Linked DNA regions of Homo sapiens: region 2 is linked to region 1. Evidence: fine-mapped expression QTL. Tissue or cell type: monocytes after R848. Region 1 holds a variant in brackets; the other region holds the start of a gene. All regions are shown on one strand. Distances are from middle to middle.

Region 1 (8,103 bases):
AACACATTTTATTGACTGTATTATAGTTTTCTAACTTGAAAGGTTAAAATAACAACAATTAAAAATATTAAAACTTCTGTATTAATTAAATGTATTACCAATGCCTTGGGTCATTTTATAGGGCTGACCGAGGGAGTAGTCTAGCTGAAAATGAAAGCAAAGCAGCTGTTATCCCCATCCGGGAAAGCTGAACATGCTAATGCAGTTGCTCTTGTCTCTGCTTCCTGCAGAGGGATTTGTTTAGAGGCCACACCAGCTGAGTCTGCACTGGGAGTTGCTTATGGAGAAGTGAACATTCCAGCTAATGGGCACAGAGACCGTGTAGCAATCTTCTGGCTGGGTGCGGTAGCTCACGCCTGTAATCCTAGCACTTTGGGAGGCTGAGGCGGGTGGATCACCTGAGGTCAGGAGTTCGAGACAAGCCTGGCCAACATGGGAAAACCCTGTCTCTACTAAAAAATACAAAAATTAGCTGGGTGTGGTGACACAGCCTGTAATCCCAGCTACACGGGAAGCTGAGGCTGGAGAATCACTTGAACCTGGGAGGTGGAGGTTGCAGTGAGCCGAGATGGCGCCACTGCACTCCAGCCTGAGGGACAGAGTGAGACTCCGTCTCAAAAAAAAGAAAGAAATCTTCCTTGTTGACAAATCTCAAATTTCCTTTTCTTATGCATGCAGAGGTCTTGAAACATTGAGAAGCGGTTTCTGAGGGCCTACAGGCTTATCAGCCCAACTAATGTATTCACCAAAGGCAGGCAAGAGAAATGGGTTGTAAAAGCAAATTCCATTTGTTTTCCCTCTCTGGTCCTTGGTTTGCGCTTTTTCCAGTTTGCCTGGAGAAGCCAGAATCTATTAGCCAAGTGTGATTCCTCATCTTTTGTCACCTTTTCCTGTGCTCTCCACCCTCTGGCTTTGCATATGGATTTCCAGGGCCTTCAGAGACACTGCTGAACAGAGTAAACAAGTGTTTCCCAGAACCAAGAGTCCTGGTGTCACCTGGCCTATAGAGAGTGCACATACAGTCTTTTCATTATAGTGTCTTCTGCCTGGCACTCAGTTGGGAAACCTGAGTGGCTCCTGAAGACAGGCCCGACATATCACACTGTCATCATGCTAAAGAAGTGAACCACTGCCTACCTTTTGACTTTCAGAGCTAAAGAAATCTGCCTGCATGATTAGATGTCAGCTTCACTGCCCACTTATAACCCTGAAGTTCACAAGCTCAGTTTCTTTTCAGCAAATGGGCACCTCAAATGTGAATCTTGGGCAGATTCAACTAGAATGAAGAGAGCAAGGCGCTGTGCTTATGCCGTCATTATGCCTTATTTTAAGATTTTCAAAGATGGATTATCAAGCAGGATGAAGCAGATCAACAAGTTTCCCTTTTGAGAAGTTGGAAGATTTATTTTTAGTCATTCTTTCTGTCTTGCCAAAACTGGTCCGACGCTTCCAAGGATCTGAAGTGCTGCATGGTGCTGCCCCCAACTGGTTCTTTTTGGTGCTTATATTATTACCACATCAGAAAATATATGACATTTAAATTTTTTTCGAAGCGCTTTCACATATTTTATTTTATTATTATTTTTTTGAGACAGAGTCTCACCCTGTTGCCCAGGCTGGAGTGCAGTGATATGATCTCTGCCCACCGCAACCTCTGCCTCCAAGGTTCAAGTGATTCTCGTGCCTCAGCCTCCCAAGTAGCTGGGATCACAGTCGTCTGCCACCATGCCCTGCTTATTTTTGTATCTTTAGTAGAGATGGGGTTTCACCATGTTGGCCAGACTGGTCTCGAACTCCTAGCCTCAGGGGATCCACCTGCCTTGGCCTCCCAAAGTGCTAGGAATACAGGTGTGAGCCATCTCGCCTGGCCAACTTTTACATATTTTTTTTTCAAGACAGGGTCTCACTCTGTTGCCTAGGCTGGAGTGCAGTGGCTCAATCTCACTTCACTGCAGCCTCCGCCTCCCGGGTTCAAGTGATTCTCCTGCCTCAGCCTCCCGAGTAGCTGGGATTACAGGCACCCACCACCATGCCCGGCTAATTTTTGTATTTTTAGTAGAGATGGGGTTTCACTATGTTGGCCAGGCTAGTCTTGAACTCCTGACCTTAGGTGATCTGCCCGCCTTGGCCTCCCAAAGTGCTGAGATTACAGGCGTGAGCCACGGCGCCTGGCCAACTTTCACATATTTTATTAGATTCTCATAACAACACTGCAAATTAGGTGAATCAGGGATTATCATACCTACTTATAGTTGAGAAAAGTGAAAGATGGATAGCCTTATTAGTTGATTTGTCCAAGTTAAATGGCTATTAGGAGGCTGAATTGGGCTAGAATTCAGATATTTCTCCTCTTATCCCATTAAGTTCCCTAGTCCTTTGTAAATGCAATGGTACCCAAAAATATGTATTAAGATATAAATTTTAGGCTTAGAGGAATTTCCCTCTTTTTCTCCCTTGGGAGGAGGAGGGAGATAATACATCATATAAGGTTTGAGTAAATTCATTTTTGAGCTCCTGTGCTGCATGAGGCTCTCTTACTCAGATGCTGTGGTCTCTAAGTCTCCAGTGCAACGTAGTGGTAAAGAGTATGGACTCTGGAGCCAGACTGCAGAGTCTGCCAGTCTCTGCCACTTAATAACTGGATAACTTTAAGCAAGTTGCTTAATTTCTAAATGCCTTCTCTAAAATGAGTAATAGTATGTAGTCATTTTGTAGTCCATAGCACGATGATTGGATTTTCATGTGCATGTGTGAGGTGTACTACCCTCAAACCTTATTAATGTCTGCACGTTGTCTGACATGAAAAAAAAAAGGAAAAAAAGTACCAGTGTACCTACCTTATAGGGTTATTGTGCAGATTAAATGAGATAATATATGCAAAACTCTCAGAACAGTGCCTGAAACAATTTAGATACTATATAAATAACAGCTGCTATTATTATTTATAAATACATATACTTACTCACTTTTTTTTGAGACTGGGTCTCTCTCTGTTGCCTAGGCTGGAATCTAGTGGCACAATCATGGCTCACTACAGCCTTGACCTCCTGAGGTTCAAGTGATCATCCCAACCTCAACCTGTGAGTAGCTGTGACTATAGGCACACACCACCACACCCAGCTAATTTTTTTTTTTTTTTGAGATGGAGTCTCGCTCTGTTGCCCAGGCTGGAGTGCAGTGGTACAGTCTCGGCTCACTGCAAGCTCCGCCTCCTGGGTTCATGCCATTCTCCTGCCTCAACTTCCCGAGTAGCTGGGACTACAGGCGCCTGCAACCACGCCCGGCTAATTTTTTGTATTTTTAGTAGAGACGGGGATTCAGCATGTTAGCTAGGACGGTCTCGATCTCCTGACCTCGTGATCTGCCCACCTTGGCCTCCCAAAGTGCTGGGATTACAGGTGTGAGCCATTGTGCCCAGGCTTTTTTTTTTTTTTTTTTTTTTTTT[A/TA]GACGGAGTTTCACTCCGTCACTTGCCCAGGCTGGAGTACAATGGTGCAATCTCGGCTTACTGCAACCTCCATCTCCCGTGTTCAAGCGATTCTCCTGCCTCATCCTCTCGAGTACTGGGATTACACGCATGCGCCACCATGCCTGGCTAATTTTGTATTTTTAGTAGAGACAGGGTTTCTCCATGTTGGTCAGGCTGGTCTCGAACTCCCGACCTCAGGTAATCCACCTGCCTTGGCCTCCCAAAGTGCTGGGATTACAGGTGTTAGCTACTATGATCCCACCCCTGGGAGCTACCGTGCCTGGCCAATTTTTGTATTTTTTGTAGGGACGGGATTTTGCCACTTTCCCCAGGCTGGTCTCAAACTCCTGACCTCAAGTGATCCTCCCACCTTGGCCTCCTACCGTGCCCAGCCTTATTCACTTTTTTTTCTTTTTTTTTTTTTTTACTAAAAAAGCAAAGCTGCCCTTCATGGGTATTTAGGAATGATGAACAGCAAGACTATCTTCAAATAGTTTCTCCATAACCTTATCTGCTACTCTTTCCTCTGTTCACTTCAGTCTTACTCGTCTTAACCACTTTACTGAAACTGCTCTGTCCAAGGTTGCCAATGATTTCCTGGTTGCAAATTCAGTGGATACCTTTCAAGCTCGTCTTCCTCATTCATGGCTTTTGATACTGTCAGTCATTTCCTTTGTAGAATGCTTTCCTTCTGACATGTAGAATGTCATTGTCCTTCTGAACATACATACATACATACATACATTTATTTATTTATTTATTTATTTATTTATTTATTTATTTATTTATGAGATGGAGTTTAGCTCTTGTTGCCCAGGCTGGAGTGCAATGGCACGATCTCAGCTCACTACTACCTCTGCCTCCCGGGTTCAAGTGATTCTCCTGCCTTAGCCTCTTGAGTAGCTGGGATTACAGACGCCTGCTACCATGCTCAGCTAATTTTTTTGTATTTTTAACAGAGACAGAGTTTCACCATCTTGGCCAGGCTGGTCTTGAACTCCTGATGTCAGGTGATCCACCCGCCTCGGCCTCCCAAAGTGCTAGGATTACAGGCATGAGCCATTGCGCCCGGCCGTCCTTCTGAACATTTAGAATGTTCTCCTATTGACATTCTTGCCTGTTCCTTGGGATTCTGTTGATTTCCCATCTTACATGTTAAACCCTGGGCATGCATGACCTTGGAATGCATGACTGCTTCAGCTCAATGTTTTTGCCTCCTAAATATTGTCTTTCACTTAGACTTTGTTCTTAAGCTTCAAACTGACTCTATTTAGATCATTTCCACCTTGGTTGTCCAATAAGCACCTGTACCTTTAATAATTTAACTTCTCCCAGCTGAACTCACTATCTTTTTTTTTTTTTTTTTTAAGACAGGGTCTCGCTCTGTCTATCACCCAGGCTGGAGTGCATTGGCATGATCTTAGCTCACTGCAGCCTCAACCTCCCAGGCTCAGGCGATCTTCCCATGTAGCTAGGACTACATGTGTGCACCATCACGTCCAGCTAATTCTGTTTATTTTTGTAGAGACTAAGTCTCTCACTATGCTGTTCAGGCCGGTCTGAACTCCTGAGCTCAAGCGATCCTCTACCTCTCAAAGTTCTAGGATTACAGGCATGAGTCACCACACCTGGCCTGAACTCACTCTCTTTTAACATTGCCTCTTCTTCTAAAAACCTACTCCTCTCCTTGCTCTCTGGGTATTTAAAAATGACATCCAGGGACCAATAGCCTATTGCTCTCATTCTCTAATCCAGGCAATTATCAAGTTTTTTTTTTTTAATTCTGCCATCTAAATACATTTTGAATCTTGCCTTGTTCCAATGCCTCCACTATTGCCATGATTCAGATGCCCTGCTCTCACCAGGATTATTGCAGTAATCTCCTATTTCCCTTTCTCTGTATTTTTCACTCTAATCCATCTATCATACCATGGCTAAAATAATATTTTCTTTAAAAAGCAAATATAACCATGTGGCTCTCCTGCTTAAAATGCTTCTTTTGTTTCCTATAGACAGGATAAAGTTCACATATCTTAGCAAAACATGTCAGCCTCACTTCCTGACTCATCTATAAATGCACTCTGGCCATATCGAAGTAAATTAAGTTCCTGAATGCATCATGCACTTAACCTGTAACTTTGCATATGCTGCTCCCTCTGTGTCTTTCGTGCTACTTTCCTGCTACTCCAGGTCATCCTTTCTGACTCCTTATTTCCTCTCTGCATTTCCTCTGACATGCCTCCACAGTTTAGCTTTATCCTTGTTGCTGCATGGTGTTGTCCTACCTGCACATAACTATATTTTAATATTTATTATATGATATTGTTTGACTATGTCCCTTAATAGATTGTGATCTCCTTAAAGGAAAGTGTCATTGTGTGCAGCACCTACCATAGTGCTTGGAGGCAGAATAAGCCCTCAGTAACTTAAAAAAAAAATACAGTCTCTCTCTTCCAGGTGTTTACTCTCTAATGGTTTCACCACTAGCCTAAATATTTCTGATAAATGGTAGCTGGGTTTTCCTTCTGTTTTGCAGTATATCAACTCCGGGAACCTGGAACAGTTGCTAGACAGTAACCTGCATTTGCCTTGGACTGTGAGGGTAAAACTGGCCTATGACATAGCAGTGGGCCTCAGCTACCTTCACTTCAAAGGCATTTTTCATCGGGACCTCACATCTAAGGTATGAAGGCTTTACTCTCACAACTCATTGAGAGATACCACCCTTCTCTTTTGCCAAGAAAGCTGTGTTAGATTTAACATTTAATCACAGAGGACATAATTCATTATATTTTATAGTTAGTCCTTAGAAAGCCTACATCTTTTCCTTCTGTTTTTGAGGCAGTGTCTCACTCTGTTGCCCAGGCTGGAGTGCTTCTGCCTCCTGGGTTCAACGACTCTCGTGCCTCAGTCTCCTGAGTAGCTGGGACTAGAAGTGTATATTACCACACTCAGCTAATTTTTAGTAGAGGCAGAATTTTGCCATATTGGCCAGGCTGGTCTTGAACTCCTGGCTGCAAACAATCCACCCGCCTTGGCCTCCCAAAGTGCTGGGATTACAGGCGTGAGTCACTGTGCCCCACCATAAGCCTATATTTTCTTATAGCAGGTTCCTTTCAGTGCTGAGTGAGCCAACATATATATATATATATATATATATATATATATATTTTTTTTTTTTTTTTTTTTTTTTTTTTTTGAGACGGTCTCACCTTGTCACTCAGGCTGGAGTACAGTGGCATGGTCTCGGCTCACTGCAGCCTCCACTCCATCGGCTCAAGCAATCCTCCTACCTCAGCCTCCCGAATAGCTGGGACCACAGGCGTACACCACCATGCCTGGCTGTATTTTGGTCTTGTTTTGTTTTTTTCCACTCTTATTGCCCAGGCTGGAGTTCAATGGAGTGATCTTGGCTCACTGCAACCTCCACCTCCTGGGTTCAAGCAATTATCCTGCCTCAGCCTCCTGAGTAGCTGGGATTACAGACGCCTGCCATCACCCCTCGCTAATTTTTTGTATTTTTAGTAGAGATGGGGTTTCACCATGTTGGCAGGCTGGTCTCAAACTCCTGACCTCAGGTGATCCACGTGCCTTGGCCTCCCAAAGTGTTGGGATTACAGGCATGAGCCACCATACCCAGCCTTTCTTTTGTATTTTTAACAGAGATGGGGTCTTGCCATGTTACCCAGACTGGTCTCAAACTTGTGAGCTCAAGCAGTCACCCACCTCAGCCTCCTAAGGTGCTGGGATTACAGGCATGCACTGTGCCCAGCCAACTCATACATCTTGAGAGCCTTCATGTTTAACTTCAATCTCCTGAATATGTGTTACAGGAGCAAATGACATGAGAAGGGTTAAGAAATTCTTGCCTTATAGGAATGACAGCAGTCAAGGCAGTATAGGGGCCTATCAGTTTTCTTTCCTGTGGCCCCAGGATGTAGTTCTTAGCTAAGAGCAGGAGTTCAGTGATTTTTAGTCACTTGAATGCAGGTTTTTAGGGCCATATGTACTGACCCATTTTCTGCCTGTGTGATTGAGTTTCTGCTGCCCTGCCAGTTCCTCTTTGGCATCAGCTGATCTCTGTAGCACTCTCTTGCTGTCCAAATTGCTGTGTGACCAGGTTAGAAAAGAGTCGCTTTCAGAGGAAGTTGGCCATGCCACAAAACAGACACCTCATAGCCAAATGGCCTAAGATACCATCATGACAAGGCTTATATAAATAGTACCGTTTGATTATTAATGGGGGAACTATAAGGCAATCTAACATATCTAATATGACTGCTGCCCAAGAACTGAATTAAAGTCTGCTAGGGAGGTGTATAAGAGTTTTGTACCTGCCTAAGAATAGCTGTCACTTCATTCCCCACCCTCAATACCTACATGTACACATATTCACATATGCATGCACATACTCCTACTCCTTCTGCCCCAGATGAAGGGGAGGGGAAGGGAGCCCATCTTAAGAAAAAGCTTGAAAGGGAACAAAAGCAGCAGTACTGAGTCAATAAAGCCTAAAGCAGTAAGTACCTGGATGCCTCACATAGAATGGTTTTGGTGTGTGGCAGAGTCATTTGTAGTCAGCTGCACTGTTCCTGAAGGAGCACAAGACTGGCAAGTAGAAACTGGGAACCAGCAGA
Region 2 (8,103 bases), 150 kb after region 1:
ACATGGTGAAACCCTGTCTCTACTAAAAATACAAAAATTAGCCAGGCATGGTGGCGGGCACCTGTAATCCCAGCTACTCAGGAGGCTGAGGCAGGAGAATTGCTTGAACTCAAGGGGTGGGGGTTGCAGTGAGCTGAGATTGCATCACTGCACTCCAGCCTGGGCAACAAGAGTGAAACTCTGTATCAAAAAAAAAAAAAAAAAAAAAACCAGAGTTGGGTAATAGGTCCAATCAATTCAAATCATGGTCTTCTAGCCAGGCATGGTAGCTCATATCTGTAATCCCAGCACTTTGGGAGGCCAAGATGGGAGGACTGCTTGAGCCCAGGAGTTTGAGACCAGCCTGGGCAATATAGGAAGACCTTGTCTCTACAAGTGTGGTGGCGAATGCCTGTGGTTCCAGCTACTTGGGAGGCTGAGGTGGTAGGATCGCTTGAGCCTAGGAAGCAGAGGTTTTAGTGAGCCAAGATTGTACCACTGCACTCCAGCCTGAATAACAGAGCCAGACACTGTCTGAAAAAAAAGAAAAAAAAAATCATGATCTTCCTTTCTAATTCCTAAATATTTCTCATTCCCACTTCATTCAGTGTTTATGATATACCCAAACAAAGTGTTATCAGGAAGCACAGGTGTCTATCTTCTACATTTTGAAATAGAAGCCAAAATAAATTTTATTAAATAAATGACTGGGTTGCATACAGTTTGCTTGTCAAATGATACCTAAATCCTCATCTCTGAGTCTCACTCTATCCTTCACCTTCATCTCATCATTTCATTCCATGCAAAGGGGTTGAGGATGTTTCACAAATGCAAATTTAAAGATTTATTTCTAAGGTTGGATCAAAATTTTCCTGACATCAAAAGAGTTGTATTAAGATGTGAGGTATTCTTCCTGGTTATTGATTTTTGGTATTTGTGTTTTCACCCTGGGGATTGCAATGCTGTAAAATAAGTATCTTTAGACTCCCACAGTCTCCTTGAAATATGTCAATTCTCTCATCAGAGAAGAGGGATCAAACAGAGAGAGGTAACACAGGCCCAGAGCCATTGCTAGCCCATATGGTCACTTGGTGAGAATGAGAAAGAGGCACCCAGATGCAACCTGGTTGGTGCAGGGATGGGCAAATGGAGTGCAGGCCAGATTTCAGCCCCTTTTTGCCCGATGTCTAGATATCTTTTCGTCCAATGCCTTCTACAAGCCTTTATTACCTCCTTCCCACACTGTTGGTTTATCTCCAAACTCATCTTTTGCCTCCAGACTTTATCTTTCTCCTGATTCATCCTACATATTTCTGTCTGGTTAATATTCCTAAAACACTGCCTTTTATCATATAACTGTCCTGCTCAAAATACCTTTATTAGCTTCCCTCCACCAACCTAAGAAAATGCAGATTCCTCAAGTTAGCATTTTACAATGCTTTTAAAAGCTTTTCACAATGTCTCCTGTCTCTCTTGCAGTCTTTTCCCACTATTTCTCACCACAAACTTATGGTCCAATTAATCTAGCATTCTTGTTATTCACAACCACATATTGCATATTCCCAAATGTCTTATTTGCTGTGTTATTACCATCTGTATTTATATATTTATGTGCTTATTTTTTATTTTTTATTTATGTTTTTGAGACACAGTCTCACTCTGTCTCCCAGGCTGGCAGTGGTATAATCTCGGCTCAGTGCAACTCCGCCTCCTAGGTTCAAGCAATTCTCCTGCCTCAGCCTCCCGAGTAGCTGGGATTACAGATGCCCACCATCATGCCCAGCTAATTTTTGTATTTTTGGTAGAGGTGGAGTTTCACCATGTTGACCAGGCTTGTCTCGAACTCCTGGCCTCAAGTGATCCACCCACCTCAGCCTCCCAAAGTGTTGGAATTACAGGTGTGAGCCACCACGCCCGCCTAACATGGAGCTTATAGTCTATTTTGGGAAACAGACATTAAGCAAATAAACACATAAATATAGGCTAGGCGCCATGGCTCACACTTGTAATCCCAGCACTTTGGGAGGCTGAAGCGGGCAGATCACTTGAAGCCGGAGTTTGAGACCAGCCTGGTCAATGTGGTAAAACCCCATCTCTACTAAAAATACAAAAATTAGCTGGGCATGGTGGCATACACGCCTGTAGACCCAGCTACTTGGGAGGCTGAGGCAAGAGAATCACTTGAACCCAGGAGGCGGAAGTTGCAGTGAGCCAAGATTGTGCCACTGCACTCCAACCTGGGTGTGACAGAGTGAGACTGCATCTCAAAAAAAAAAAAAAAAAAAAAAAAGACAGTAACTGATTAAATCAGAATAACATATTCATTGATTCAAAGTGCAAATATTTTCTGAACATCTTCTATGTGTAGGCATTTTGGCAGGTGGTAGAAATAGGCCCTTACATGGAAATGGTTCCTGCCCTTCCACAGCTCATAGTCTAGTTAGGGGGACAGGCATTAAAGGAATATTCGTTCTCCCAAAAAACTCTGATAAATTATAGGAAAGAAAATAGTGTGTGTTATGGAAGCCTGTAAATGTGGTACCAGATTCAAGGTGGAGTAGGGATTATGCTATTTTGCAGTAATCTATTTATAGTTATTTACAGATATAAATCCATTTACCAATATAAACAGATTTCTTTTTCTTTCTTTTTTTGTTTTTTTAGAGAGGGTCTTGCTCTGTTGCCTGGGCTAGAGTGCAGTGGCATGATCATAGCTTACTGTAACCTTGAACTCCTGGGCTCAATCAATCCTCCTACATCAGCCTTCAGGGTAGCTAGGACTACAGGGTGTAGGCCACTAATCCCTGCTATTTTTTATTTCTTGTGTAGAGATGGGGTCTCCAGTCTGCTCTGTTGCCCAGGCTGGTCTAGAACTCCTGGCCTCAAGGGATCCTCCACTTTGGCCTCCCAAAGCCTTGGGATTACAGGCATGCGCCACTGCATCTGGCCTAAACAGATACTTATTGAGTACCTACTACACTGAATAAGCAAACAATTTGAATTACTTCTAATTCCAGCCAGCCTGGGCAACATAGGGAGACCGCCCCTCTACAAAAATTTAGAATTAGCTGGGTGTGGTGCTGTGCATCTGTTGTCCTAGTTATTCTGGAGGCTGAGATGGAAGGATAGTTTGAGTCCAAGAGTTTGAGGTTGCAGTGATCACCCCACTGCACTCCGGGCTGGACATCAGAGTGAGATCCTGTCTCTAAAAAAACTTTTTTTAAAGTGAATTATTTCTAATTCTTACAACATTTATGTGTAGAAGCATTATTACTAGCTCCCTTTTGCAAATGATTTAATAGAATCATGAATAGCATCACACACAGCAAGTGTGATTCACACCCAATTCTGCCTGTGCTCTTTAATTCTGAGATTACAGCAAAACCAAACTGTGGCTCCAGCCTGTCTCCAATCATTTACTCTCTTCTTACTCTTATTTTATCCTACACTCTAAATCTCTCTTACTTTGAAGGGCAAACTCAACTATAGAAACTCTTTTAATACAGTTCTTGGAACGTTTTAAAGTTGTAGAGATTAGTTTGTCAGCAAATTCTGAAATAATCTGAGCTTTCTTGATCGAGCAAGAAACAGTAACTTACAATTGCGTGTTGTTTATGGAGTTAGTGATGAAGCTGCCATTCTTGAGCACCCACTATGTGCCAGGCAGAGGATAAATTATAGTGAAGGAAATAGACATGATTCTCACTCTCATGGAGTTGACAGTCAGACATTAAACAAATATATAAAAATACAACTATGTAAAGGTGTAGAAGACTGAGCCAAGTGAGGAAAACATGAAAGACCTAATTCAGATTGGAGGTAGGGGATCAGAGAATTCTACCAAAAAACACGCAAAAGTGTTTTGTATTCTAGGATGCAAGGTGCTAAACCCTCCAAAAGACCCCACCAGGATGCAACCCCCGTGGCGATAAGATCTTGATGCCCCATTGTCAAGGGGTGGTGCGACTTTGTCCCACTCTGGGGTGGGGTGACCGCCGGCTTTATCCTACATTGTTGTGGCGTGAGGTGAGTTTTCATCATCCGAACTTTCTGATGTTTTCCCCTAGTGTCTTCTTTCCCAGCGTCTTTCTGCCAGATCTTCCGCTCTGCTGTGACAACCTCCTGTCACATCAGTACCGTTGGAGCTGGATTGTTTTTTTCTCCTTGTACCCCGCGAGCCTATAACTTCACGGAGGCGGCTCCTTGGATGGCTTATGGCCCCGCCATTTCATTCAGTCACACAGTCCATTCCTGTCTGGCCGGCGGCAGGTGGGTTGGAGGTGCGCGGGCGGGCGGGCGGGCGTGCGAGAGCGTCCGGCGCTCCTCTCCCCTCCGCGGTCGCCGGATCCGCGAGAGCGCTCGGCTCGCGTTCTAGGCTGTTTGCGCCTGGAGCGCGCCGCGGGCCCGCGCTCGCTCCCGCCTGTCTTCGCGTCCGCGGCGGCCAGGACACCGCGCGCCGCCTCACGCTACCCTGCAGGCCGCCCGCGTCTGCCCTCGCGGCGCGCTCCCGGGCCCGGCCGCGGTTCCCCACTCGGGCCGGCTGGCTCGCGGGTTCTCTCGCCCCGCCCCCCTCGGCGCCACCGCTGGGCGCTTGCGCGGGGCGCGTGGCCGTGGCCAGGGTCTCCGCCGCAGCCCGAGCAGCCGCCGCCGCCTCAGTCAGTCAGTCAGTCCCCAGCAATGGCGGACGGAGGTGAGCGAGAGGAGCTGCTCTCGCCGTCACCGGTCTCTCCGGCTAAGCGGCAGTGTTCGTGGCCCAGCCCGCAGGCTCATCACCCTCGCGGTTCGCCTGGGGCAGCCGGCGGAGGGGCAGGGGGCGTCGGCAGCAGCTGCCTGGTCCTCGGGGCCCGCCCCCACCTGCAGCCGGATTCCTTACTGGACTGCGCCGCCAAGACGGTGGCGGAAAAGTGGGCATACGAACGGGTGGAGGAGCGCTTCGAGCGGATCCCGGAGCCCGTGCAGCGCCGCATCGTCTACTGGTCCTTCCCGCGGAATGAGCGGGAGATCTGCATGTACTCCAGCTTCCAGTACCGGGGCGGCCCCGGCGCCGGCGCTGCTGGCGGCGCCGCGGGGGCTTCGCCGGCCGAGGAGGGGCCGCAGCCACCCCCCGGGGCCGCCGCTCCGGCCGGCTCCGCCCCCGGGGGCGTCGCGGCTGGGGCATCCCCCGGGCTGGGCGCAGGGGCCGGCGCGGCCGGCTGCGGTGGCGAGGGGCTCCCGTTCCGCCGGGGCATCCGTCTGCTGGACAGCGGCTCCGTGGAGAACGTGCTGCAAGTCGGTATGTGCTCGTCCAGGCGTTCTCGGGTCCTCAGCCTCCTCTTCCGCGGGTGCCTCTTCTCGGCCCGAGCCCTGGGGCCGAGACCCCGGCCTTCTGCCCAACTCCTGTACCCCTGCCGAAGGACGAACAAGTCACAAAAACTTTTTTCAACCTTTCACTCAGGTCCACCACTGCTCTTTCCTCCACTGACCCTCTACCCCAATTTCTTTTTGTTTGAAGAGTGAATAGATCTCTCTTCTTCACTCTTTCTATTCCCCACACCAAGGCAAAGAGAATGGGGAGGTATGACTTTTTGGATGTAATAATTTCAGAAATGTGTTGTCCTAATTTAAGTTTGGAGAGGAGAGGATTGTTAGTAAATCTGGAACAAGCGGTTTTAGAGGGAGCGTTTGAGGGACAGACTGTCAGAGGCAATCTATAGCCCTAGCCGATTGAGTCTCGATGAAATTAACACTGGGAAAAAAGCCCCAACAAAATACTGCATGTTTCAGACAGTTTTAATTGTCTGCGTTAGGATTTTTCCCCTGGACCGGTGATGCTTGGGAATCTAGGCTGCGGACTAACAATAACCGAAGATGGAAATGTGACAGCTTCTCCTCCACACCCCCACCCAAGGAAAAAAAAAAAAAAAGCCATACAATCTGGAGTGGGGGTGGGGTCTCTCTTCCTTGTCAGACTGGGGTAAATCAAAAGCTGGTCACGCTGGGTTTTTCAAAAGCTTCTCATTTAACAAGTCCTATTTGCTTTTATCTTTTTGTTATGGAAAAATATATTATACAAATGATTTCTTCCTTTACTCCTCCGGAGCTTCTAGTCAGTTTGTTAATCTTATTAAATATATAAATACAGTGCTTCTGATTTGTGGAATGGTTAAGGAGAAGGATAAAAAAATGATTAACATTGACTTTGCTATGTGGAAAATTAAAACACGAATTTTTTTCTATTTGGATTATTATGGCATTCTGGAAGTACATATCTTTATGCGTTTTATTGTACACTATATGCTCGTATTAATTGAAGAAAATACTGATTTTTGAAAGGAGTTGAAGGGAGGTTGTTTTTAGAATTAAACAAGCACAGAAAGACACAAACCCCAGACATCTAGCTCTCCAGGTAAAACCTGGAGAAAACATTTGAAAAATGTTTTTCTTTGAATCGTGCTGTTTCATATAAAGTAATCTGCTTCTGGTTATTGAGAATCATTGATTCCTGTGTTTCTAACCAAAACAACAGCATACCACAACTTGTTTTGCAAATGTGAAATGTAAATTTATCCTGTGCCAGAATATAGTGACAGTGGCTTGAGCAAGTTTTGTTTATTTGAAAGAGGTTAGTCCTTTATTTGTGTATATTTTTGAAAGAGTGACTTGAATAAATATGTAATTAAGGTGTACAGCTTTAATACTGAAACACTGAAAACATGAAAATAAATACAATCATTTTCCTATTAGTCTGTAAATTTTAATTTTTCTGAGTTTCGATCATTTATTTAACTTTTAAGATTCTTGTTTCAAATATTTTAAATGGAAAAGGATCAATTTAAGTGGTCATTTTATAGTAAGAGATGGATGAGGAAGAATTTTCAAACTTGAGGGAACAAATAAAAGAGAGGAAGAGTTTTAAAGAGGTGTCTATTTTTAAAGTAACTAAAGTGTCACTTTCCAAATGAAATAGGATATTTTGGGTAATCTAGATCATGTTTAAATCAGATATTTCCCCTTTATAATATGAAAGTTAATGTGGTTCTGGAGTTATAGGCTCTCTTATGGTAGTTTCAGAAGACACATATAAACAAACATGTTTTCTGATTGACTTGAGAAAAGACACATATAAACAAACATGTTTTCTGATTGACTTTGGATTTCAAAGACGAAGACCGGTGAATAAATTTATCACTTTAAGTTTATGCTACTTGAGAACCACGAGCTGTGTAATTTTTATTATTCTGACCTTAATTTAGGTTAATAAGTATAGGAGAGAAGGATAGCCTGTTCTGCATCTTTTTGAGTTCTGTATTTTGGTATGAACCACCTTTAATAGAGACTCATCCCCCATCTCCTAAACTTAAAGTTATAAGTAAATGACTTAATCTAGAGAGTAGGCTTTCTAAAAGTATTGCCAAGAGATGAGTAAGGAAGTGATTCGTATATACCAAGATAGTAATCGTGTTTTTCAGTTTATAACTGCACTTCAAACTCAATTAATTACTAAGTGATGCTAATTAAGAATTCTACATATTTCCTTACTGTTTCTAAACGATAGAACCTCAGATTTGGGAAGTTACTGAAGGCCGATGCTTTAGGAAGAACAGAAAGTTGGGGTATTTCTGTGACAACATCTTTTTAAGAAAAAGAGTCATAAGGGAATTTAATGAAAAAGGGAATTTAAATGAAAAAAGAAAGCACAAACAAAAAAGCCTTCAAGGCAAATAAATTAAAAACAAACAAAAACTTGTGGAAAGAGTAGGTAGATTAAATTCTGTAATTTCTAATTACTTTCCACACAAAATCTGGTAATGGGAAGTCATGAATTCTGGTTAAAAATTGGATACTTCAGATTTTAAATCAAAACTAAAACTTTTCCAGCTATGCTCAAAGGATACATTTCTTTTATGTAAGTACTGCATCAGAAGTAGTATTCCTTTTAAAAGGGGAAAATTGCAAATTAGTCTCTTCAGGGATGTCTGTAAGTTTAAAGCTATGTCAATAGACTTACAGTCTGATCTCAGTATTGTAAAGGTTAGAGTATGAACTCTATTGAAAACATATGAATGTTTTCAGCATCTGCATTTTTAACTTGTTTCAGAAGCCCATGGATATAGTAGTAGTATAAACTTTGGGAAAATACTTATT

The links. PIP is the estimated chance that this variant, and not a neighbour inherited with it, causes the effect.
Region 2: it holds the start of ZSWIM5, and the variant in region 1 is fine-mapped to the expression of ZSWIM5 in monocytes after R848 (Quach 2016, PIP 0.95).

The regions. Positions count from the first base shown.
Region 1 is chr1:45,353,349-45,361,451 of GRCh38, reverse strand. TESK2 (testis associated actin remodelling kinase 2) reads left to right here. Exons shown (of 11, transcript NM_007170.3): 5 at 6,003-6,149. It also overlaps the pseudogene LOC124904849. Among named protein-coding and RNA genes, the nearest start is that of TOE1, 17 kb to the right of the region's middle. RefSeq lists enhancers at 488-987, 1,118-1,197, 1,458-1,557. The variant A/TA (reference allele first, on the strand shown) is at 3,446.
Region 2 is chr1:45,202,904-45,211,006 of GRCh38, reverse strand. ZSWIM5 (zinc finger SWIM-type containing 5) reads left to right here and starts at 4,402. Exons shown (of 14, transcript NM_020883.2): 1 at 4,402-5,251. The coding sequence starts at 4,657. RefSeq lists silencers at 4,176-4,595, 4,796-4,955, 6,924-7,124 and enhancers at 4,024-4,923, 4,924-5,824.